Linked DNA regions of Homo sapiens. The protein of the gene in region 6 purifies or fractionates together with the protein of the main gene of each other region. This does not show direct contact. Each region holds a gene or a part of one and is shown on either strand. Other genes may lie near its edges. The genes, in order: RCN2, LRP5, FRAS1, DCAF8, ZNG1A, PODN and SPSB3.

Region 1 (3,500 bases), on a different chromosome or scaffold from region 6:
GCTTTTTCTGGTTCACATTTCACGGCCATTTGAAGAACACAAAATAAGAATAGCTCACATTAAATCGAAGAAGCCAAAAACAGAAAGACTGTTTTTTACAAATGGCAAATTCCTAAAAAAATAACAAAAAAGATGGTCAGTTTCATAAAACTTCAACACTCTTTTTTTTTCTTGTATATAAAAACTTTGTATTCTAGTAGAGGGTAAAAAGTGTTAGGTACAGTAATAAAAAAGCTACCATAATCATTTATTTTTAGATTACAACAGAAACTTGTGAGGAACAAAACTGCCATCTTTTGGTAGACTAATGATTCTACATGAGGAAATATATAATGTGTGATACTAGAACAAATGACTAGGCATTAAAAATTCTGATTAGCCACATGCAAGGTTATATCTTACATAAATAAATACTGCTTATACATGCACATTCAGCAGTCACGCCTGTAATCCCAGCACTTTGGGAGGCCGAGGTGGGCAGATCACCTGAGGTCAGGAGTTCGTGACCAGCCTGGCCAACATGGTGAAACCCCATCTCTACTAAAAAATTAGCTGGGCATAGTGGCACACGCCTGTAGTCCCAGCTACTTGGGAGGCTGAGGCAGGACGATTGCTTGAACCTGGGAGGAAGAGGTTGCAGTGAGCCAAGATTGCCCCACTGCACTCCAGCGTGGGTGACAGAGCAAGACTCCGTCTCAAAACAAAAACAAAAACAAAAACAAAGAACACTTGAACTTTTGCCAGATAGATCCCCAAACTTTAATTATCCTGTGTTGACCATAACTGTTCTTTATATTATAAAGAAATGCTTCTTCAGGCATTTCACAGCCTGAAAGGGTTATCTTTATTCCCTATATGAAAACTTATTAAATATAAGATAAAATTCAGACTGGGCATGGTGGTTCACGCATGTAATCTCAGCACTTTGGGAGGCCAAGGCAGGTGGATCACTTGAGGTCAGGAGTTTGAGACCAGCCTGACCAACGTGGTGAAACTCAGTCTCTACTAAAAAAAACAAAAACAAAAACAAAAATCAGCCAGGTATGGTGGCACGTGCCTATAGTCCCAGCTACTCAGGAGGCTGAGGCAGGAGAATTGCTTGAATCTGGGAGGCTAAGACTGCAGTGAGCCGAGATTGCACCACTGCACTCCAGCCTGGGTGACAGAGCGACACTCCCTCTCAAAAAAAAAAAAAAAAAAAAGGTGAAGTTCAGATATTAAGCTGACTTTCGTCAGTTATAACAGACTTTCTTATAGAAAACTTTATTTTATTCACATATCCAATTACTTTTTATGATTATTTTATTTATGGTATAGTGTTTAGTCTATAACTTTGAGATTGATTCATTCCTCATCCGTTATTTTTTATTTAGAAAAATAATGCATATGGTTTCTGGGTTCATCTTTACACTCCACATCAATTTTTAGGACGTTATTTTTTTTTTTTAAAGGGACAAGGTTTCACTATGTTGTCCAGACTGGCCTCAAATTCCTGGGCTCAAGCAATCCTCCTACTTCAGCCTCCTGAGCAGCTGGGACTACACATACACACAGGAAGTTACTTATAGCAAATTCTAAAAACATATGATTAGAACTTCATGAAGATAGAGACATATTCCTAGGCTGTCAAAAAAAAAAATAACCAAAAGGACTCCCATTGAAGTGTTCATTTTCGGGATCAATCTATTCCTTTAGGCTGTTAAGATTCATCTAATTCATCCTTTAAAAGCAGAGTGTTATAATCAACACATTCTAAGTAGCTGGTGGAGAACACAGAATTAGAACCAGACACCTTTTAAAAGAACTGTTCATAAACAATTTATGAGTCATGTATCTCTTCAAAGTGAAGATTTTCTTCTCAGCACCATCTATTACATCACCCCCTTCTAAGAATACAGGAACATGCACTTCTTATTTTTTAATGGGATAGTAATTAAGTCTTTTGAGTAACAAAAAATAAAAATAGAAAACATAATTAGAATCTAATTCCAGCAAGATTTTAAAATACTGTATTTAACTTCTCTGTTGTTCCTAGGAAGGGAAACCACACCACACCATGCTTTGGTTTTAGATAAGTTACATTGGTTTAAGATAAGTTAATTCCTATAGTAAATGGGGATACTTAATAGACAGATGATCCCAAATCTCATTATCACTACTTGTTTTTCCTTTAGTATTTACAAGCAGTAAAAAGACTGATTTTTACTCACTTTAGTCCACTGTAGAATGAAGACCCAAATAAAAAGAAAACAAAAGATACATTTTCCCCTTAAAAAATAAAATCCTAACTAATCTAAAGCTGATAGTTAACAAATGCATAAAGTTTTAAAAAGTTGATTAAATATAAATTTATGTGAACTGTAAATGCTTTCTTCAATATTCTTTTAAATCAAAACAGAACTGCTTGCCCCTCCAACTGCTACCATTTATTAATATTTATCCACACTATTATAATCCTAAAGAGGAAATTTTTATTTATTTATTTATTTATTTATTTATTTATTTATTTATTTATTTTTAGAAATGAGGTCTCTCTGTTGCCCAGGCTGCAGTGTAGTGGCATAAATATGGCTCACCGCAGCCTTGACTGCCTGGGCTCGAGCAATCTTCCTGCCTCAGCCTCCCAAATAGCTGGGATCACAGGACGGACCATCATGCCCATCTAATTTTTAAATTTTGTTTGGGCATTTGTTAACTAGACAGCTTTAGATTAGTTAGGATTTAATTTTTAAGAGGAAAATGTATCCATAGGGACGGGGTCTTGCCACATTGCCCAGTTGTTCTCGAACTCTGGGCTCAAGTGATTCTCCCACCTTGGCTTCCCAAAGTGCTGAGATTACAGGTGTGAGCCACCACACCTGGCCTGAATGGGAATTATTATCCTCATTTTTGGAGATGAGGAAACTGAGGCACATGAAAGTTTAATAACTTGCCCAAAGTTACACAACCGTGAAGTGCTGGAGCTAAATGTGAAGCTAAGCAGACTGGCTCTGAGGATGGAGCCCCAAACCTCCACATTGATGCTGTAGTTATTAGCAGAGAATTAACCAACTTAGAGTTAGTGGTGGCTTACAGAGTTCAAGCGGCCAATATGATTCTAAATAAATAGCACACTTAGAAAGCATTTACCAAGGAGGGAATGGGGTGTTGTTTAACAGGTACAGAGTTTCAGCTTTCCAAGATGAAAAGAGTTCTGGGGATTAGCTGCACAACACTGTGAATGTACTTAACACTACTGAATGGTACACTTTAAAATGGTTACAATAGTAAATTTGTTATGCACTCCTCCCTCCATATTTGTGAGAAATTGGTTCCAGAACCTCCCACAGATACCAAAACCCAAGGATACTCAATTCCCTGATATAAAGTGGCATAGCATTTGCATATAACCTACACATATCTTCCCAAATATTTTAAATCATTTCTAGATTACTTATAAGACAAATTACAATTTAAATGAGGAGTAAATCATTGTTACACTATATTGTTTAATACAATAA
Region 2 (3,500 bases), on a different chromosome or scaffold from region 6:
CTCCCACCTCAGCCTCCCCAGTAGCTGGGAATACAGGCGCCTGCCACCACACCCAGCTAATTTTTGTATTTTTAGTAGAGACGGGATTTCACTATGTTGGGCAGGCTGGTCTCGAACTCCCAACCTCAAGTGATCAGCCCACCTTGGTCTCCCAAAGTGCTGGGATTATAGGCATGAGCCACCAAGCCCAGCCTGGTCCCTTTTTGTTTGTATTTTTTGTAGGGATGGGTTCTCACCATGTTGCCCAGGCTGGTCTCAAGTAATCCTCAGATGGTTACCATGGAGGGGAGGAAGGACTGTGGTCCCAGCTGTGGAGGCCCCTCCCCCAAGCCCTGGGACACAGCAAGGCAGTGGCAGGCAGAATCCTAAATGACCCCGTAATTTCCCACCCCAGTCCCCAGCACGGCGTCATGACCTTATGTGGCAGAAGGGATTCTGCAGATGTGATTAAGGTTATTAATCAGCCGACTTGGAGTCTATCAAAGGGGAGGCTAACCTAATCTAAAGGTGGCTGAGCCGAATCACAGGGCCCTTTAGAAGCAAATCAGAGAGACTCAAGGTGTGGGAGGGACTGACGCAGGGAGCCCCCACTGCTGAGGCAGAGAGGGCCACGGGGCAAGGACCTGTGGTGGCCTCTAGGAGCTGAGAGTGGTCCCCGACCAATAACCAGAGAGAAAACAGAACCTCGATCCCACAACTGCTACCTGCTGAGTGAGCAAGGAAGCTAATTTCTCCACAGAGCCTCCGCTGAGGGCCCAGCGTTCCTGACACCTTGATTCTGGCCCCGTGAGACCCTGAGCAGAGAACCCAGGTGAGCCACGCTGTGCCTGGACTTTGCCTTACAGAACTGAGAGACAATCCGTGGGTGTTGTCAGGCCAGTGGCTCACACCTATAATCCTAGCACTTTGGGAGGCCACAGCAGGCAGATAGCTTGTGCCCAGGAGTTGCAGACCAGCCTGGGCAACATGGGGAAACCCCGTCTCTACAAAAAAAAATTAGCCAGGTGTGGTGGTGCCCACCTGTAGTCCCAGCTACCTGGGAGGCTGAGGCAAGGTGTTCACTTAATTAAGCCCAGAGGTCGAGGCTGCAGTGAACTGTGTTTGCACCAGGGCACCCCAGCCTGGGCAACAGAGCAAGATCCTGACTCAAAAAAAAAAAAAAAAAAAGAGTTGGTGTTGTCTTAAAACGCTGTTCGTGGTGATTTGTTCTGCGGCAAAAGAAAACAACCTCAGAGGCCTCGGGACATTCGGACATGTCGCTGAACCCCAGCGGGCAACAGTTGGCATCTGGCAGAGACCACCGCCTGGCTGAGGCCACACAGGATCTTGCACTGGCCTCCAGCCTCCTCCAGGGGTCGGGTTTAGAGGCCACCCTGCCCACCCCACTGCCAGCCCCCACGTACAGAACTCCTCCAGGCTGACTTCCTCCACTGCATGGATGCCAGTGAGGTGGGCGACACGGCCCTGGATGCGAGTCCGCTTGTCCCCGGTGGTCTTCTCCACACGCTCGATCATCTGCTGCTGGCGGTCGATCCAGTAGAGATGCTTGCCAAGGATGGTCAGGCCCAGAGGCTGCACGATGTTGGCGTCCTCCAGGGTCAGGCGGTTGGCCCCTGCAAGCAGCCCGTGGGCCCCCCTGAGCAGTGCTGACCTCCAGAACTTGCCCCACACTCAGCTTGGGAGGACAGAGGTTGACAGGACTGCCAGGGAGCCTGGGGGATTCCATGCTTTGGACAGGGGTGGGAGCTGCAGCAGAGTCCCTGGAAGCAGGCCGACCCAAGACAAGCCCTCGGAAAGCCCTGCTCCCACCTGGGCTGGGCTCGGGATGAAGGCCATCAGTTCCAACGGCGGGCCTCGGTCACTGGCCCCTGCAAGCATGGCCCCTCCCTTCACCCATCTACCTCATCATAAGAGGAAAAGCCATGGGGACCTGCGCCCCCTCTCTAAGCACCAACTCTCATTTCTCTCCAGCCCTCGCAGCCTAACACAGTCCAGAGCAGAGCAGCTTCTTGCGCAGGTGCTGGGGGCAGAGGCTAGGCTGCAGTCCTGCTCCATCTCCTGCTGTGGGGCCCCAAGCAGCTCGCTCACCCTCTCTGAGACTCATTTTCTGCCTCTGCCCTGTGGGGCTCACTCAGAACCCCAGCCTACAGCTGTCAGTGTGAGGACAAAACACGCTACACACAAAGCCCCTGGCGCGGCACTGGGCTCACGGCAGGTCTCGGACAATGTGGCAGCTGCTGCCATTACTGACAATGAAGGCCGGGTGTCTGCGGTTAGGGCAGGCCCCGGGGCGCGTACCTGACAGGTCACAGCTCTCAATGCGCTTCAGGTCCGCGTCCACCCAGAACAGCTTGCCCAGTGTGTTGTCCACCACCAGGGCCACAGGGCGGATGAGGCCGGTGGTGAAGAGGACCTCGCGCTCGGTGCCGTCCAGGGCTGCGCGTTCGATCTTGGCTGCCCGGTCCTGCATGTTGGTGAAGTACAGGTACCTGCGGGAGGGTGGCGGGTGAAGGACGGGTGTGGGGATGGCGTCTCCTCGGACAGCACGGAGCCCAGGGCACCCAGCTGGGCTGTGGAAAGCCCCTGCCTCTCAGGGCTGCCCGAGGCTGACAGGTCACATTCTATACTAGTTGAACAATGCTCTCCAAATTCCCGCTCACCCCAGAACCTCAGAATGTGAGCTTATTTGGAAGCAGGGTCTTTACAAATGTCATGAAGGATCAAGATACGACCACAATGGGTGAGGGTAGGCCCTAAATCCAACTGAAGTGTCCTTCAATGGTACAGAAGAGGCCACGCCATGTGCAGCCAGACAGAGAGACTGGAGTGACAGGACCACAAGTCAAGGGGTGCCTGGAGCCACCAGAAGCCCAAAGGTTCCCTCAGAGCCTTCAGAGGGCGCAGGGCCCTGCCCACACCTCGATCTCGGGCTTCAGCCCTCAGGAACTGTGAGAGAACAAGTGTCCATTACTCTCAGCCACCTGGCTTCTGGTAATTTCTGACAGCAGCCATGGGAAACAGGTGCAGGCCCCCCACAGCTGCTAAGGACCCCGGAGCCCTGGCTGTTGGGAGACCAGCTCGGCTGGCTCCTGCACAGCCGCCTTATAGACCCGGGGCTTCCGCCCACCGAGCCCCCCGTGTGCTGCAGAGGCCGCACCACTGTGGCCGTCACTCCTACCAATGAGGAAACTGAGTCTCCAAGAGGCTATGCCACCCGCCCAAGGTCACGTGGCCAGTAAGTGACAGAGTCAGGGCTCAATCTCTGGGCTCCCGGCCCAGGACCTGTGCTGGCTGTAGCTCCCGTCTTCATGCCAGCCCCCCAGCTATCTGAGGAAGGCCATCGCGCTCCTGTCCCCAAACGTTCCCGTGCTCAGTTTGGAGCCTGAGTTTCATGTCACATGGGTTTCGGTCTCCCTCTTTCCCTGGCTTTTCTCTCTGGAGACCTCAAGGTCCTGGGTGCCTTCCCACCAACCAGAAGCTCTGACGACCAACAGGTGGGA
Region 3 (3,500 bases), on a different chromosome or scaffold from region 6:
TTATCAGCCTAGAGAATAATTTTTAAAAATAGAAAAGAGACATTCACATGTATACTTCTTTTGATGGGATGTACCTTGTGACACCTTTGCTGACCAGCTTATGGCAGAATTTGTCGTTTTCTTCTCAGTGCACAGAGAGAACAATTGTGGTTGGTATGGGTTTGGTCTTCCTCACTTAGCTGTGTGCTTATTGAGGGGTTAGGATGGCTCCTATTAATTCTGATATCTTCAGTTCAGCTCCTAGTATACACTAAGTGCTCAAAAAATTGGTCAGATGAACAGTATTGCCAAATTATATTATTTTGAATTAAGCTTAACTGGTGGACTGGCCTCTGATTAGCTCACTAACCTTGAATGAACCATCTAACCTCTTTGCGCTATAGTTCTGTCATTTACTAAATGAGGTACATTACGTGATAGCTCTAAGATACTTTGGCTAATCATCAAACATAGAAGAAAAAGAGATCAGTATTTGCTGCATTATTAGTGGTCAATTGCAATTTTCTGGTTCTAAATTTTATTATTTTTATTATTTTTTTTTTGAGGCACAGTCTTGCTCTATCACCCAGGCTAGAGTGCAGTGGTGCAATCTCAGCTCATTGCTGCCTCTGCCCCCTGGCCTCAAGCGATTCTCATGTCTCACCCTCCTGAGTAGCTGGGATTACAGATGTGCGCCACCATGCCCAGCCAATTTTCACATTTTTAGTAGAGACAGAGTTTCACCATGTTGGCCAGGCTGGTCTTGAACTGCTGACCTCAAGTGAACTGCCTGCCTTGGCCTTTTAAAGTGCTAGGATTACAGGTGTGAGCCACTGTGCCTGGCCTCTAAATTTTATCAAAAGAAATATCAAAAGAAAAATAAATTTTTACAAGCAAATTATTGGCAGTGTTATTTTATATGGCCTTATATTGCTAAACTGGTAAAGTATTAATGCTATGACTTGAGAACTTAATAAAATCAAGAAGTCACAAAGAAGCTTCTAACATGGCTGCTTTCTGAATCACAGAAACTCTACCATGGCTTTTTCTGGAGAAATATCTTGAGTTCTGTTGACATATGGAAGTCCTGTGAAGTTACAGTAGATAAGACAGTTGCCTTGGGATAGGGAAACATCATTGAATTGGAGGTTAAGAGAATTGAGCTTTAGTCTGTGTCCCATCACTCTCCATGTGATTTTAGCCATTCCCACAAACGCTGAATCCCGGGTTTTTCCTATAAATGCTATTTAACAGGTTACATTGAAGAGGCTCATTTGATAGACAATATGTTTTATTTATGGGTGAGTTAGGGTAGTTGCACTCTGGGCTGCAGAGTTGTTTCACTGAGAGACTCTATGCTTGAAACTCAATAACTCAATGTTGGGAAGAGAAGAACTTGGCTGGAAAAAAGTAACCTAATTCTTTTATTCTGCAAGCCTTTATTGAGAGGTTCTGTGTCAGGTTATGTCCAGTAGGTGGGTACAGACATCAAAACCAAAGCCAAAAAAACCTCCTGCGCTCAAGGAGTTTGCATATCTAGAAATCATTAATGTCAGTTGAATAGCAGTAGGGATATGGGAACATTTGGTCCTTGGTGGGTTTCTCAGTATGGAAACGTTAGATGATGGTTGTAACTTTGCATCCTTTGGCTTTTGTAATTACCTGGCAATGGAAATAAAGAGGTGTTGTTGTGGACTCTTATTTTCATCAATTATATTTCCATTGCCCTCTGAAGATTGGATTCTGGGCATTACTCTCCTTATATAGTGTACATCCTTTAGTAAGGACCCAGCCATCCGTATTCACTGTTATGGACTTGGGTGGCAATGTCACCCAACTGTACTCACACAAGTAGTCATAAAATATTCTTTAACACATGGCTCAGAGTAGGGGAGGGGACTACCACATGTCAAAGTTGGAGCCTCATGCCAAATCTTACCGTAGTTCCAAAACAGTTGGCCCACTTTCATTTTAACTACTCTATTAATTGATCTAAATCCTAGTTGACAATAATCAGGACATGAGCTGTCCTGTCAGTTCAGAAAATGATTCTATTTTAAGTATTCCACAGTGCACACAGCCATATGCTGAATTATAACACAACATAAAGCCTGAACATTTAAATGCCAACTTGTGGCTGCTTGTTCCTAATGAGTCATGTTCTTGTGGTACCATGCTCTCCAAATCTTTTTGTATCTTAATGGTTGTATCTGCCACTATTTCTTTGAACTAATGGGTCTGACATTTTGTGGTGCTTGGATTTAACTTCTCTAATTTACTCAGTTTACCAACGGTTTCAGAATATATGCAAATTATATCTCAAAATTTCTCCAAAAATACTAGATTTTATACAGTCATCTCATAAAGGCGTATATTATAATGTGCAAAAGGGATTAAAAACAGACATTTACTTGTTTAAATTTTATGCAGTAACGTTTTTTCTGTGTGACCTGCAAGAAATGAGCCAGCCACACAGTAAAAGAGCAGCTCAGGTCTCAGGATCTGGGCTTCCTTCTTGACACTATAAAATTACTTCACCCTGCAAAACTTTATGCTCTTTCTCACAGGTTGTGAGGTGTTAGAACTTAAATTACCTGGCATCTCAGCTGCATTCTGTGCCTTGAAATTGGCATTGTTCATAGTTAGAGAACTACTCCTGTTGTCTCCGGTTTTTCCTCAGTTTTCCTTTGAGGGAGGCTCATTTCTTCTTCTAGATCAGCACTCTCTCACAGAATTCACCTTGAGCTGGAATTTTCTTTAAAGTTCCCTGCCATAAATATAAACGTCAAATAGACCTGCAATCATTCTTGTACTCCTGAAGAAAAAAAAATAATGAGTCGAGAGATGAATTTTGTTTTCCATATTATGTGAACTGACGGATTAGTGAAAAGACCTCCACTCTGGCTTTCAACCAGAAGCTACACCCAGTACCCATGTCAACAAACCCCTCAACTTCATCTGCTGGTGGGTGTGTGAGAGAAATATGCTTCCTTTGGATGCTGCATCTGGTATTGGGTGATGATAAATGTTTGATAGAACTGGGCATCACACTGGAATGCTTTTTTTCTCAAGAGAGTAGAAATGAGGTTTTGGAAGCTGTGTTAATGGAGGCTCATTCATGCAGCTGCCTTCCAGGTAGAACTGTTCTGTTTTAGGAAAGCTCTCAGAGGGCAAAGCTTATTTCTTTTGGAATTGTACAATACAAAGCAACCCAAATTGAATTAATTCCTTTTCCTAATGATATAATTTTTCAGCAGCTCTACACCATTTTGGCTTGAGTCTCCAGCAGATGCATGGCTTGCCCAGGTATAGATGTGGTGCCACACTCAGTGCTACTTTATTTTTTTCATACTGCAGTGAGTTTATCATGGCTATCTAAACTTCCAAAAATAGGTTTTGATATGGGTACTCAGATACTTCTTAAGGTGCTTGATTTCCTTTGGAGCTTTGAAAAGAAATTGACTTTGGAAGGTAATGCTGTGGAGAGCAATAAAATTATTTGAGGATAGTCTTATTTTAAA
Region 4 (3,500 bases), about 110 Mb from region 6:
GGTCTTGCTATGTTGCCAGCCTGAAACTCCTGGGCTCAAGCAGTCCTCCCAACTCAGCCCCCCGAGTAGTTGGGATTACAGGTACATGCCACTGCACCTGGCTAAGAGAACTTTCTATAAAAACATCCAGGACCATTTATCTCAGTTTAACTAATTCCTAGGGAAATCTACTTTTCATTTTGTTTCCATCTCAATTTACATTTACATCAGAAGTCTGTTGCCATTAACAGTTTTTGCCATTTATATTTCAAATTTTTCTTAAACTGGAGAGGATTTAAGATGAAAAAATGATGCTCCCAAGGTACAACTTACAATAAAACATTAAAGAGAGGCTTAAAACCTCAAGAAGTGCCTTCCTACAGGTTAGGTTAGAAGAAAGGGTCTAATGTTGGATTCTAAGTAAGGTTAACAAAACATACCTGGTAATGTGGCAATCATTAAAGTACACCAGAGGAATACAGTAACTTGACTACCATTAGAGGTAAACCCTATAGTAGCTTTCCAGATGGCTAAGAAAAAGCCAGGAAGAAAAAAAAAAATGGCACGTGAGGCAAATATGTATGCTTCACTTTAGAACTTGGCCAGACTTCCTTAAACAGTAACTTCAGAGGATAAACAGCAAATATCTAATCTAAAATGTTTGCATTGACCCAATCCACTAGACATACTATTAATACATTTCATTAATAAGATGACATCTTTGTCATATTAATTACTCCCCAATGCCCTATTGGCAACCTCAAGGCAGCCTCCGTTCATTAATTTATCTGTATCATAACACATTCCTGGGGTTAGATGGTACTTGAGAAATCTGGCTTCTGGCCCAGGAACTATGTCCTACAGAGGTAGAGATAAAAAAAAACTGCTGCAAAGAAGTGACTAATTCATAAAATTCATCACTCGCTAATTTTTGAAAAGCTTTCAAAGACTTTCTACTCACTCCAAGAGCAGAATGACTAAATCAATAAAGAGCAAGTAGCCTCCTTTTCTGACTGATTTTAACAGCAATGATGTTTCTTGGCTACATTTGTAAAAATAAAAGATGAAGTTTTTAATATTACTATAAAGCTAATCTAAAACTCACTGGCTTTTGGCTCTAAAATGAAAATATACAAAGTCACTACCCCATGCCTATTGCTGATTCAATTAATTCAGTTGCCTGTGTTCCAAATAGGTGAGGGTAAACAGCAGATTATCTTAGCTCACTGATAATCTGCTTTAAAAAAAAAAAAAGCTAATTCAATCTCAGAGACTTAAAAACTAACTCTAACACCAATGTTATGCAATAAAAAGTCTGGTTTGGATACCGTTATTTCTCTTTTATAATCTGGATATTTCCTAGACATGTTTAGAATAAACTTTTATACAGTAGAAATAATGGAGTAATGAATCTATCTACTGAAAGCATTTTAATAGTCACTTTATGATTTTAAAAGCCTATTACTCCCCTGATAGAATACAAGACTTAGAGCACGAAACTCAAGATCCCAGTCTTTCACAACAGGGTGCGCTTCTATACAATGTCTCCTACTAGAATCTGTTTGCTTTTAAAATGCCAGTATTGTTTTAAACTGGCAACAAAGAGGCTGCTTTCTTTCAGCTCTCTGTAGACAAGCTTCTGTCTTAGGTTGGTCCTACTCCACACTAAGGACCATGGCACTGGAACTGATTCTTTTTTTTGAGACTAGGTCTCGCTCTGTTGCCCATACTAAACTGCAGAGGCGCAATCTCAGCGCACTGCAGTGATCACTGCGCAATCTCAGCTCTACCTCCTGGACTCAAACAATCCTCCCACCTCAGCCTCCCAAGGAGATGGGACTGCAAGTACTTGCCCCATGCTTGGCTTTTTTTTTAAACTTTTTGTAGAGACAAGGTCTCAATATTGCCTAGGCTGGACTTGAACAACTAGGATCAAGTGATCCTCCCACCTTGGCCTCCCAAAAGTGCTGGGATTACAGCCATGAGCCAGCCGCACTCAGCCTGGCAGATTCTTATACATTTAATTGACTGCATTTAGCAGGGTGCAGTGGCTCACGCCTGTAATCCCAGCACTCTGGGAGGCTGAGGCAGGAGGATTGCTTGAGCCCAGGGGTTTGAAACCAGCCTGGGCAATATGGTGAAACCTCATCTTTACAAAAAATACAAAAATTAGCCAGGTACGGTGGCGTGCACCTGTAGTCCCAGCTACTCGAGAGGCTGAGATGGGAGAATCACCTAAGCCCAAGAGGTCGAGGTTGCAGTGAGCCATGATAGTGCCACTGCACTCTAGGTGACAGAGTGAGATCCTATTTCAAAAATAAATAAATAGACTGCACTTTAAGAGGTTGGTGGTGGGAACTAAAAGGTCACAAGCATTCTTAGCCTCCCACTCTAATCATCCTAGGAAATACTACCTAATAAGATGTCACAATTCTTAAGTAAACACCTAAAACCCTGGAAATATAAAAATATCTTCAAGCTGGGTGCTGCGGCTATGCCTGTAATCCCAGCACTTTGGGAGGCCAAGATGGGAGCATCACTTGAGCCGGGCAAGTAAGACCTCATCTCTTTAAAAAAACAAACAAACAAAAAAAAAACAACCAAAAATTAGCTAGGTATGGTGATATGCCCCTGCGGTCCCAGCTACTCAGCTGAGGTGGGAAGATCACTTGAGCCCAGGAGTTTGAGACCAGCCTAGGCAACAAAGTGAGACCCTATCTCTACAAAAATAAAAAAAACTTTAGAAAGATAAAAAGTTTACAGTGTGGTCCACAGACTAGAAATACTGATTTACTACATATAGATGTCACCTGGACATTCTTACCCAGCACATAAGGAAATAAACAGTCCAAGTTATCCCTCTTTCAAAGTATTTCCTTTTCTCCTCCCATCCTTTCCTTCACCCGACATGGATCTTCAGAGTTCATAAAAACACAAATGATACAAATGCAATCTCAACCCACCTCACCACCACCCTGGAGAATCCTTACCTTACAATGGAGAATTTAGACCCTGGATGATGGTAATGAAAAGTTCATCAAACCTAAAATGGTCACTGGTCTGAATGACACAGCTGCTTTCATTGTGATATTATCAGTACTTAATTTTCATGTGCCCTTGCCAAAAAGATACGAAAGAAAAGCCAACAAAAGGTTTAAAACTCTTCATCTGTGCTGTCATATTATTAAGACGGTCCAGCTGTGGAGCTGAAAAAAGAACTCTTTGGCCGGGCATGGTGGTTCACACCTGTAATCCTAGCACTTTGGGAGGCTGAGGCGGGCAGATCACAAGGTCAGGAGATTGAGACCACCCTGGCCAACATGGTGAAACCCCTCCTCTACTAAAAATACAAAAATTAGCTGGGCATGGTGGCGCATGCCTGTAATCCCAGCTACTCGGGAGGTTGAGGCAGGAGAATCGCTTGAACCAGGGAGTCGGAGGTTGCAGTGGGCTGAGATCGCGCCACAGCACCCCAGCCTGGTGACAGAGCAAGACTCGTCAAAAAACAAACAAACAAACAA
Region 5 (3,500 bases), on a different chromosome or scaffold from region 6:
GATGTTTTAGGAACAGAACCTAGAGAAAATGAAAGTCAAAATTTAATAAAAGAATTTGTCAGGAACTTCAAGGTAAAGACTCCATGTATTTTTTGGCAACTATAAAACACTAAGAAGGCTTTTTAAATATTAAAAAGCCATTTAAACACTTCAAATTAAGATTCCTCAATATACTTCAGATTTCTGTACTGAGTTACCCTCTCGAGTGTTTGGAAGTCTTTTCTTCCTCATTAAGCAAACACTTACACAGTGTTATCATGGCTTTGTATTCTTAGTTTTGAAGACAGGCAAATGTACTAGCCAAATATGCCAAACTAACTTATTAAGAGCATTCCAAACAACATTTTGGATCCAATTCTTTTTAAATGCACTTAGATCTTTCTTATATTAGAATCAAGCATATTTGTCAATTATTTAATGTTTATTATTAATAACTAAAATGATTTGTTATTAATAGGAATAGCTTTTTTAAAGTACCTTGATCTTTGTGTTTCTAAGATTTGTCCTAGTCCATTTATGGATCTGAAATAAATAATAAATGAGGAAGACAAAGTTTAAAAGTAAAAATTAACTTTTTAAAAAAGTATACAAAGTATATTGTTTCTAAAACAGGAAATAAGCATACCCAAATACATCTGGAACCAGAAAAAAATTAAAAACAGAAAAACAAAACTTGCTTTAAAAAATAATTGTGATTTTCCTTCAAACAATAAATCACATATATTCCACTCATACATTAATAAAACATATATGCAAAAATTCGCACAACTGTCAGATTAAGGGCTACTTTGTGGTTAATAAAAAGACACTTCACTTTAGAAAAAATCATTCATAAATAGTCAGTTATCCTAGTGTTCTTAAAAATGAGTAGATACTCAAAATTTTTACGGTGGTCACTTTTTTCCTCAGGCATACATGGTAGAAATGGCTATATACACACTAAAAATAAAAACCTAGTTGCAAGTTGCTTTGCCCCCAGCCTGTCCTTAGTATTCACAGTAATTCTAAGTCACACATCCCAGGTTCCTTTATAGAATAACCTCGTCAGTTACCTAATTAGGCTCTCTACCCGTTATGCCTGTTCTCCCTCTTTTGATACTATAGAATATGGCTTCGTATGGCACCAAAAAGTACCTGTTAAATTCTTTTCAACACACTGTACACCTCATCTATTTATCTTTTCCATTGCCTATCATCAATCATCAATTCTCTATCATGAATTCAATTGTCTTTAGGGTTACTTACCCAAGATTCTTGCTACTTGTTCAAGTTTGTTCTCATGGGTAAGGCTTCCCACATATAATGATTCTGAGGCAAGTCTCTCCACTATTTTACAAAATTCTTAAATCTTCTTTTTTGAATACACTCTAGTCTGATGGCTAATTCCTCTCAAACATGTTTACCTTTTTTCACCTCCCCAAATATCATTCTGAGTCAGTCACAAGTCTGATATAAAGGGAGGGTAAAAGCCAAAAGGGTGTGTAATTTATCAAATTGCTTCTTCCAAATTCATTTCTAGTACTGTTAACAAGCTGGCTAATAGTCAATATTGTCAGTGTCAGAGATTTAGCTTAGGTCTCTATAAGGATATAAAAGTCAAGTAATAATTATCATTCCTTTTATGCCAAAAACATTTGCTAAATAGATTGTGTTCTTCTTAGCAATCACAATGGTGCACAAGATTTATGAAGAGAAACAAGATTAGAAGACCAGTGTCAAAAAATGTAAAAGCAATCTTCATTCATCACTTTCTCCTTTTCAAAATCAGCCATCTTTTTCTTTCTTCCCTTTTTTACTATACCTTGAACTTACTATGTAAGCTAAGAAAAAAATTACATAATAATAGCTAACAGAGCACTTACTATGTGTCAGCACTGTGCAAAGTTTACCAACATTGTCTCATGTAATACTCAAAGCAAACTTATGATAGGCATTATGCCTTTTACAGAGGAGGCTTTAAAAGGGTAAATAAGCTCCCTAAGAAGACAATGAGAAACAGACCAAGGATTAGAACCCAAGCAGATTCCAAGGTCTGTGATCTTCAACACTACGCAACAATACCTACCCTCCACGTGGAGACATTATATTTTTTTATAGTAAAGTTTAAGGACATTACTATTAAAATAAGATGAAATATGTGGAAAAAATATGAATTTCTTTCTTCCACAATCATTAATCATGGCAAATAATCTCCTAATGAGCCTTACCTTTATTGATTCAATTGATAATATATACTATATGAACTGAGATGACAGATTCAAAATCTAATGTCAGTAGAACTTATAAATACTAAGAATAGTAATTTTGAGCCATCACGCTCAAAGCATTGTACACATTAAAGATAACCAATACTAATAGCTACCGAATGTCTCTCTGTATAGGGCTTTTATTAGTTCAGGTCTTACAAAATAATTCAAAACAAAGCCCCTGAACTATAACCTCATTTGAAAAGCCCATCTTTGTTTTCAAAAGGAATGGGAGTCTCCAGAACAGTCAGCAAAATGACTGTTAGCACATATTTGAGCATCATTCATATTGTCCTGATTGTCCTATGCTGATCAGCCTTGGCTATGGACAAAGAAGATATTAAAGCAAGCTGGAAGACAAGGCATGGTTGACAGTTAAGGAAGATGAAGTCAACAAGAGTTCAGGGAAAACTGAGACCACTTGAGTCAGGGAAGACTTCACATAGGAAGGGGGGAGAGACAGAATAGGCTCTATAGAATAAATTAAAAAAAAAAAAAGCAGAACAAGAAAGAACTCAGGGATTGGCAGAGTGAGAATACATTACGAGTAAAGACAGGAACTGACAGGATGCATCCATGGGAAAGTGAATTAACCATCCTGGGTAAAGTTAGGGAAGACTGACATTAGGAAAGAGTCAAAGAGAAGACAGGAAAAGAAAGATGGAGTGCGAAGACCCTGAATATCAGTCTATTAACTGTGAACTATATTCTGCAAGCACTGGGGACTAATTTTATGTATTACCATTTATATAACAATTAGCCATCAACAATATATGTGATTCCCTAACGTTCTTGAAGCAGCTCAACCTTATACCTTAAGTTTCTACAGGGCAACAATCAGAGTAAAAAATATTCTGTGTATACAACATGGATCTGTAGGCACTTAACACACTTATCATTTCGTACCTAATTGTCGTTCTTAATTTCTTTACATCTTCTTCTGGAACCAGGTCTGTTTTATTAATGAGAATGGCATCTGCCAAAGCAACTTGTCTAAAATAGCAAACAGAGAAATGTTAAGAAACTTTAAATAATATACACGCATGCAGATTAATACATCAAAAGAGGAATGTTAACAAATCAAAAATAAATAAAAACGCCTCATGTAGATCAATATATCAGTTAAGAATTATCTAGTGCTCTATAGGAGTGACTCAGTTTACTCCTAATCCGCTAATTTTTCAATGTGGATGAATTGTGTTCATTACTATGCAAGTTCAGATTTCACATTACCCATTCGCAAAGTATTTACTA
Region 6 (4,023 bases):
TGTGTGGGGAAGAACAGGGGAGCTCCCTGGTCTCCAGGAGTTTCAAGTCCACCTGGTGAGGAACATCTCAAACCCCTGGACAGCGGGGAAGCTCAGCCAGCAGTGAGTGTTTCTCATATGGAGAGCTTTAGAGACAGAAGGGCATGGGTTCCAATTCTGACTGCTGTGTAAGCCTGGATGAGCCACTTTACTGCTCCGAGCCTCTGTTAACTAGTCTAAGAAATGGAGTTGGGAGCTACTTGTGAGAATTAAATGAAATAGCAGTCTCAGCCTGTCACCGCTGGCATCAAATAGGTGTGACATACCAGGGGTTACTGTTACTGAGAAAGTAAGTGGGACCCACTGTCTCCCCTGACCACTACCAGGGAACCAAACCTCAAGGCCCAAAGTGTGAGGTTAAGGTAGGACTAGAAGAAGGAAGGGAAAGGGAGCCCCAAATCAAGAGGCGGATCCTCAGCCCTCAGCACTACCTTCCTTCTCCACTCAAAGTCAGTACAAATCAACTGACCACCTGCTCTGTGCTGGGCCCCAAACAGCTGCATCTTATTGACTCTAATAGAAATCCTGGGACTACATGTTCGTCTTTCTATTCTGCAGATTTGGAGCTCAAGCACAAAGGGCTGGCATTGCTGCCCATCCCTAGAAAGCTCCTGCTGAAATGCCCCTGCTCAGGGAAGCCTCTCCTGCCCCCTTGGCTGGGTTAGGGTGTTTCTGGGTGCTTCCACAGCAACCTTGGCTGGCTTTATCCTTCAAGTCTCAGCTGGGCCTCCCCTGTCTCCCCAAGCATGGAGTGGGGGTGCTGGGGAAATGTTTGCTGAATGAACGACTTTGTGAAAGGCAGAGTTGGAAAAGATCTAAAGATCTGCAGTATGATCTGCTCTGACTCCCCCAGTTTGCAAATTAGTGTGTTAAAGCCAAGGCCAAGAGTAAAATGTGGGTCTTCTGACTCCTGCCCAGAGCCTTGAGTTGGCCTTGAAGACTGAGCGGGAGTTCTCCAAGTGGACGGAGTGGGAGAAACAGCCCTCCAGGCAGAGGTAGAGTGTGATCAAAAGGTAGGGGTGGGGCTAGAGGAGAGGGACGTGTGTTTAAGGAAGGGTCAACAGGGCGGGAGGCCTGGGTGGCCAAGGGCCTCCACCGCCATGCTAGTGTTGGTGATAGGGACTCATTAAGGGTTCCAAGCAGGACACGGCCAGCACTCGCATGTATGACTACACCAAGCCTAAAAGTGCCACCATTAGTAATCCCCTATCCTAGACTCAGACAGAAGGGATAAAGTGTGCTCCCACAGATGACATGAAAACAGTCGTGTGACTCTGACATTTCTTAACTTGCACTCTAGGCTAGAGTAGACTGGGTCTTGGGCCCTAAGAGTGGACATGAGGGAGCAGAACCCCCAGAGCAGTCCCCCCTGGTCTTTCCCAGGGCAGTCCACGGGCTCTTCTGAGTGACCTACCTCGGAATGCTGTGCGCCTGCAGATCAGCCGGCCTCCTTGCTCACCATGAGCCCTCCTGCCTCGCCGCTGCCTTCCCAGTGTGGAAGGTTTCTATATAAAGGAGGGATAGGGGACGGGACCACCCAGGGGCTCTCCCGGTTCACACCAGTGGCGCCTCGTGGAGCAGGGCAGACCACAGCTTCCCCTTCCCTGGCCAGCCGGTAATCGAAGGGCAGACAGGTCAGTAATTCACTCCAAGCGCTGGGTGAGCATCCTCCGCGCCTCCCGGACCAGCTCAGTCAGTGCCGCGCGCACCGGGGCCGGGGTGCTCGCCCCTTGCTGCCGCGCCTGCTCCTCTCCAAAAGGCTGCGGCTGCCTCTCCTAGCCCCAGCCCCCGAGGCTGCCAGGAGCCTCGCAGCCCCGCCACCACCTCCTCTTCCACCTGACGGAGCGTCAGGTATTCCAACGCCAAGATCTCGTCCCCCGCCCCAGGCCGGGCTGTGGCTCGGGGACCTGGAACCTGGGGCTTCTGCCTCATTCGCAGGAAGGCGCGGATCTCGCTCCTCGCGCTTCGCGGACCCCCACCCCTTCCTCCCTCCAGCTGTCCCGGCTGGGAAGCAGCCGCGTAGACAGATAGACGGACTCCAGACCGCCAGCTGAGACCTTTAGCTCAACTAGTGGTTGGCACTAAGCTGGGGCGGCACAGTGGCCGGGGAAGCCGAGCCCCGGAGGGGACCCACCCGGCGTCCGACGCGCCCTGGGGCCAGACCTCTGCCCCTCTCTGGGCCTCAGTTTCTCTATCTATAAAGAGGTGGAGGTTGGAGTCGCTAGGGGGCCTGATGAGTTGACGTGGAAAGACGCGGGGATACTTCGGGCCCAGGCTCTCATGACAGGGGTCCCCGCCCCTACGCAGTTCCACCTGCCCCCCACATTCCCTGTCGCCCGCCGGCGTCCTCCCACTCCAGCCCCCGCCCCCAACCGCCCTCAGATTCTTTCCAGATGTGCGCAGCGGGAGGGGCCTGGGGACGGGGACCAGCCTCTGCTCAGAGAGGAGAAGGCCCCTGCCTGGGTCCTGACTGCGCAGGGGTCGCACTCCAGAGGAGGAGATCTCCGGCCGTGCCCTGGGTGCAGGGTCCTACAGAGGGGGTGAGATGCGGCGGGCCCGCCCCAGGCAGCTGCTGGAGCCATCCGGAGAGGCGGGGACGTCTGAGTGCGCTGCCCGGGCTCAGCCCCCGGCCCCTCGGCCCACCCCGGCTGCCAGCGCCCTGTACCTGCTGCGCCCCGGCGCCGAGCGGCGCCCCACAGGCCGAACGCGCTCCCCCAGTCTCAGCTGCGCTCCGCGGGCTCGGGCTCCTTCCATTCAAGTCAAGCTGGGCGCTCTCCGCGACGCAAGTTTTGTTGTGGGTTTTCTCCTCCCCGCCTCTCTCCCGCCCCCTTCCCCCACTCCCCACCCGCCCCGGGAGCATCTGCTGGACGCCGGCCTCCTTCGGACACAGGCGTAGGGTCCCCCCAGGCGCGGGCAGGAGAAAGCCTGCCCCTCCCCGCTCGGGACTTGGCCGGTTCCCACTTCCCGGGGAGGCAGAGCCGCCGCACCGACCCCTCTCAGCCCCGGCCGCCGCACCACGCCCCCCGAACCCCCACCCGGGAGACCGGGAAGGCGGGCTGTCTGGTCCGCGACGCTTCCTAGTTCCCAGCCTTCCGCACTGGAACTGGACCCCCTTTAGGCCCCGACACCTGAAAGGAGGGCTGGGGAGAGGGGTCCTTCGACCCAGTGCCTCTGAGCTGTATCTTCCTCATTACAGAGGATGTTGCAACCGCTCCAGGCACGAGTACCTTTCCGTTCACTCTCCCACCCTGGGGTCCTGGGCCGTGGCTAATGGGGCCGCCAGCCAAGACCCTGCTGGGCCTCTTCCCGGAAAAGTTCCCCACGCTCCACCCCACCCTCCACTCCCATCCCTGTTGGCCCTGGGCCCACAGCCTGGTGAGCCTTGAAGAATGGTAAATTGGGCCGGAGTCGGGGACATGCAGATCCCAGTCACAGAGAAACAGGGCGGGTGAACAGTGAGACCTCACACCACCATATTGCTCCCAGGAACTGAAAATGTTTCCAAGTAAAGGAGTATTAACTACTACCAGCTGAAGCAACACTGTTTGGCGCCAGGGGCTTCGGCGGTGGAACAGGCAATGCGGCTGGGCTTAGGTGGTACTTGGCACCTCCACTGTGTAGCAAGCCTCCTCCCCTTACCTGCTCTGGCCTGTGGGCAGGGCATCCACAGCTGCCTCACCTGGCTGTCCTCCCACTGAAGAGGGAGAAGGATGCATAAGTCACACGTGGGACCCCTTGCTCAACCTTAACCTGAATGAATGAATGAATGAATGGCCCCTGTAAAGCAGCTCCAGACTTTTCACTGGCTGCCGCCCCCGTGAGGTTATACCATATGCATTATGCTCTGCTTCACAACTCCGCAAAGGAAGAACTGCTGCTGCCCCACTTTATAGAAAAGAGATGGCCTCAGAAAGGATACTTGACTGAGTAAAATGCCCATTCACTGGCAGAGCTGGGGTTTTGACCCCAGGTTTACCCTTCTCC
Region 7 (3,360 bases), on a different chromosome or scaffold from region 6:
GATCTCCTGCTGGACCTGGGCTCCTGACCACACGTGGGACCACCAGGACAGCATGCAGCCTTGGGGACAGACCAGACACCCTGGGCGGTGGGGGAGGACCCCCAGCCACATGTGGACCCTCAGCCTGGGTGGGTTCTCTGGCTGAGCAGGTCTGACCTCAGGGGAAGGGTGGGTGGTTGCAGGGGAAGTTTTAGGTAGCTGGGAGAAGAGGGGCTTCTGGCTGGCAGATGGCTGGCGGTTCCTGTGCTGAGTCCTGAACACGTAGGCCCCAGGGGAGGCCTCAGCAGCAGGGCTGTGCCCCCCCAACACACACACACACTCGGCAGGGACCAGAAGGCAGCTCCAGGGCCCCACTGCCACCTGGAGGCTTGGGGTGTGGCACCCTCAGCCAGAAGCAGTAGGGGACTCCCAAGGATGTGGAGGGGCAGTGAGGCCTGGGAGAAGGCCCAGGCTGCTCGCAAGCCCGGCCTCTGCACGGATACGTTTCAGCTCACGCCATGTGGGTGTTAGACATCAACTCTACATTTATTGCAGTCCTTTAAGTCTATGACGGCGGGGCAGCCGCTGACAGCATGCAGAGCAAGTTAGGAAAAACCGAGGCCCTGTGGGAACAGCAACGCGGGCTCCAGCCAGGCTCTCGTCCTCGCAGCCTCCCACAAGACCTGGGGCTCAGGGCAGCCGCTTCCCCACCCAGCACAGCAGCAGAGGGGCCCTAGAGCCCCCACAGAAAGGACTGTCCCAGCCTCGGGAGCAAGAGATGGCTCCCTCCGGACGGGCCTCATCCAACTCCGCCCTGGAGTGTGGCTGGAAGGAAGGGACAGAGAAAGAAGGGACAGAGGAAAGGGGCTGTCCCAGCCCAAGAAGGCAGTTCCACTGGGAAGTCAGTCAGGTCCGGCGGCAGCGCTTCCTCTGGCAGGGCCGAGGCTCGCGACTGCTGGGGTGGGCGGAGGTCGCTGCCTGGGGATCGGACACTGGAGCCTTGCGGCGGCTGCAACTCATGCTCAGGACCCAGCCCAGCTTGTTGTGTAGCACCTGCTTGAGGCCCGGCGGCAGCGGCAGACCCTCCAGCGTGTCTCCCGAGTCTGGCCGCAGCTGGCGCAGGCGGTGGCAGCACAGGTACTGGAGGGAAGTGGCGCTGGCACAGGAGCGGGTGACCTTCATGCTGCTCCGGGCCGCCGTGGAGCACACCATCGGGTAGAATCTCTTGTTCTGCAGCTTGGTGGCTGCCACACCTGGAAGGGAGGGGCCCAGCCTGAACCCCAGGCAGGGAAGGGGCCAGCTACTGGGCGCAGCCCCTCAGACCTCACGCTACAGTCACCCGGGTGGGCAGCTGGCACAGCTGAGGCAAGGCAGGGTGCACGCGCTGGCCCTGCCACTCCAGCCTGGCCTCACTGTCCCACCCCCTGGGACCCTGGGGCCTCAGGCTTCTGGGAGGAACCCTTTCAGAAAACCTCAGTGTCCCCTGGGCTGGGGCGGGGTGGCTGCCTCCCTCGGGGTGACAGCTGAGAGGAGCTCAAGTCCTGTGACGGCCTCACCTATACACTTCCTGTTCTTGAAAAAGGTGAGTGTGCCGTGCCAGGTGTCCAGGTGCACGCCAATGATGGAGCCCTGGCCGAACCGCGATGAGAAGCTGGTCTTGTCGCCCTTGTGGTGGAGGAGGCCTGGGGGCAGCCAGGGTCGCAGTGAGCCCGGGAGCTCCAGGCTCGGCCCCGCCCCACCCTGGGCCTCACGCACCCGTGTAGGAGAGGCCCCAGCTGTCCTCATCCCTGCCCAGCAGGCTGCAGAACGTGTGGCGGTATTTGTCCAGGTCCACATCCGACGTCCCGATGCCCACCATCTAGGAACAGGGGCCAGGCAGAGGGCGCGGGGCTGGGCTGCCGGAGCCAGGTTCCCCAGAAGCACCCTGGGCCGAAGCAACTTACCATGTCGGTGCCGTAGACGGGAGAGGTCATCTTGATCTCCCAGAAGTGCTGGCCCTCCCCCAGCTCCTTGGTGCCCCGGATGGCCGCTGTGCCGCAGCTGTACTCCATGTGGAAGCTGACCTTACGGTTGTCACAGCTCAGCAGGGTGGCTGATGACTTATTTAAGTCATCCCAGACCCAGTCGAAATCTGCAAGAGAGGCCCAGGCTGGGGCAGCCCTGAGAGCTCCATGGGGCTCTGCCCTGCCCACCCCCAGGCCCGCCCGCAGTGCAGTCCCAGCAGGGGCTGGGCCCCACGCTCACACTCGTCTTCCTCTCCGCAGCGGCAGTCCCTGCCCCGGTGGGCCGAGTGCAGGCTGCTACAGAAGGAGGCCTCGCTCTGCCCAGCACAGTCACAGAAGGACTCGCCGGTCACGGGCACCGCACTGGGGATGGATGGCGGCAGCGTGGAGTACTCGGGGTCGGAGTCCGAGTCGCTGTGCTGGGAGAGAAGGGCCGGCTGTTACTACCTGTTGCCCGCTCTCTACCCTCTCACCCTTGCCCTCTGTCCCTGTCCCACCCTGTCCCTGACCCACCCAGGAAAGGATGGGGGTCCAGGCCTCCAGGGACTTCACAGTACCCCGAGCGCACAGCCCAGGCTCCCTCCCAACGGGCTCCGGCTCTGCCCCATTCTGCATGACCAGGAGGGCCCTGGAGGCCCAGCCACAGAGCAGTAGCCAAGGCTGCCTGGCCTCCAAGTGGTTTCTAGACGGTGGATAAGCCCCAGGTCCACCCCACCTGCCCAGAGCTGAGATGGTGTGGACACCTTCCCTGCTAGGCCAGCCCTGCAGGGGCCCCCAGGCAAGGCCACCACCCCCACACCAGGCCCAGCTGCAGCCACCCGGCCTCAGGGCAGTCCCCACCACACTGTGGCCCAACGACCTTCCTGTTACCTGAGCAGACCTGGCTCACCACAGGGTCCTACTGCCCAGTGCCCACTACAGGCCCCGCCCCTCCTGGTGCAGGTTTCAGCTGTCACCTCCCTGAGGCTTCTCCAGCCCCTTCACCCCTGTTCCATTTTTCTTCTTTTGCTTCACTGAAGTTCTCCTTGGTCCTGATTCTTGGCCTCCTCCCACCAGAACGTGAGCTCCTTGTGGGAGGCAGTGCCCCTCCCAGCCTCCTCCCTGTCACAGACTGTGTGGGGGCCACCCAGGGGCTGAATGGACCAGGGGGTCAGCAGGGAGAGTGCTAAGTGGTGGCGGGGGGCCTGTGGCAGAGGCCTTGTGACAGTGAGGGTTGAGGGCTGGTCCAGAGAGATGATGTGATCCCCAGGAGAAGCCACAGGGGACCATGACATGGGCGCCACCAGCTTCCAGGTGAACGTGGACCTATCGAAAGCCAGCTTCAGGGCAGGACACTGTCCTTTCTGGAGGGGATGGCCCCACCCCACAGACAAGGCAG

What was found.
Region 1: the proteins of PODN (region 6) and RCN2 purify together in Homo sapiens (affinity purification with mass spectrometry; one large-scale study listed by BioGRID and IntAct). This does not show direct contact.
Region 2: the proteins of PODN (region 6) and LRP5 purify together in Homo sapiens (affinity purification with mass spectrometry; 2 studies listed by BioGRID and IntAct, with this or other methods). This does not show direct contact.
Region 3: the proteins of PODN (region 6) and FRAS1 purify together in Homo sapiens (affinity purification with mass spectrometry; one large-scale study listed by BioGRID and IntAct). This does not show direct contact.
Region 4: the proteins of PODN (region 6) and DCAF8 purify together in Homo sapiens (affinity purification with mass spectrometry; one large-scale study listed by BioGRID and IntAct). This does not show direct contact.
Region 5: the proteins of PODN (region 6) and ZNG1A purify together in Homo sapiens (affinity purification with mass spectrometry; one large-scale study listed by BioGRID and IntAct). This does not show direct contact.
Region 7: the proteins of PODN (region 6) and SPSB3 purify together in Homo sapiens (affinity purification with mass spectrometry; 2 studies listed by BioGRID and IntAct, with this or other methods). This does not show direct contact.

Annotation. Positions count from the first base shown.
Region 1 is NC_000015.10:76,938,249-76,941,748, reverse strand, and holds part of RCN2 (reticulocalbin-2 isoform a precursor), read right to left. Parts: intron 113-3,500; coding exon of another isoform or gene 59-112; intron 1-58.
Region 2 is NC_000011.10:68,424,091-68,427,590, reverse strand, and holds part of LRP5 (low-density lipoprotein receptor-related protein 5 isoform 1 precursor), read right to left. Parts: intron 2,490-3,500; coding exon 2,299-2,489; intron 1,614-2,298; coding exon 1,404-1,613; intron 1-1,403. UniProt on the Homo sapiens protein: Acts as a coreceptor with members of the frizzled family of seven-transmembrane spanning receptors to transduce signal by Wnt proteins.
Region 3 is NC_000004.12:78,060,323-78,063,822, forward strand, and holds part of FRAS1 (extracellular matrix organizing protein FRAS1 isoform 1 precursor), read left to right. Parts: intron 1-3,500. UniProt on the Homo sapiens protein: Involved in extracellular matrix organization. Required for the regulation of epidermal-basement membrane adhesion responsible for proper organogenesis during embryonic development. Involved in brain organization and function.
Region 4 is NC_000001.11:160,256,050-160,259,549, forward strand, and holds part of DCAF8 (DDB1- and CUL4-associated factor 8), read right to left. Parts: intron 1-3,500. UniProt on the Homo sapiens protein: May function as a substrate receptor for CUL4-DDB1 E3 ubiquitin-protein ligase complex.
Region 5 is NC_000009.12:151,557-155,056, forward strand, and holds part of ZNG1A (zinc-regulated GTPase metalloprotein activator 1A), read right to left. Parts: intron 3,240-3,500; coding exon 3,153-3,239; intron 523-3,152; coding exon 478-522; intron 1-477. UniProt on the Homo sapiens protein: Zinc chaperone that directly transfers zinc cofactor to target metalloproteins, thereby activating them.
Region 6 is NC_000001.11:53,060,990-53,065,012, reverse strand, and holds the start of PODN (podocan precursor), read right to left. Parts: upstream 2,801-4,023; 5' UTR 2,705-2,800; intron 1,644-2,704; exon of another isoform or gene 1,454-1,643; intron 1-1,453.
Region 7 is NC_000016.10:1,776,212-1,779,571, forward strand, and holds the end of SPSB3 (SPRY domain-containing SOCS box protein 3), read right to left. Parts: exon of another isoform or gene 2,402-3,360; coding exon 2,224-2,401; coding exon of another isoform or gene 2,111-2,223; coding exon 1,923-2,110; exon of another isoform or gene 1,838-1,922; coding exon 1,735-1,837; exon of another isoform or gene 1,662-1,734; coding exon 1,536-1,661; exon of another isoform or gene 1,233-1,535; coding exon 886-1,232; 3' UTR 501-885; downstream 1-500. Other genes in the region: structure-specific endonuclease subunit EME2, read left to right, coding at 1-27.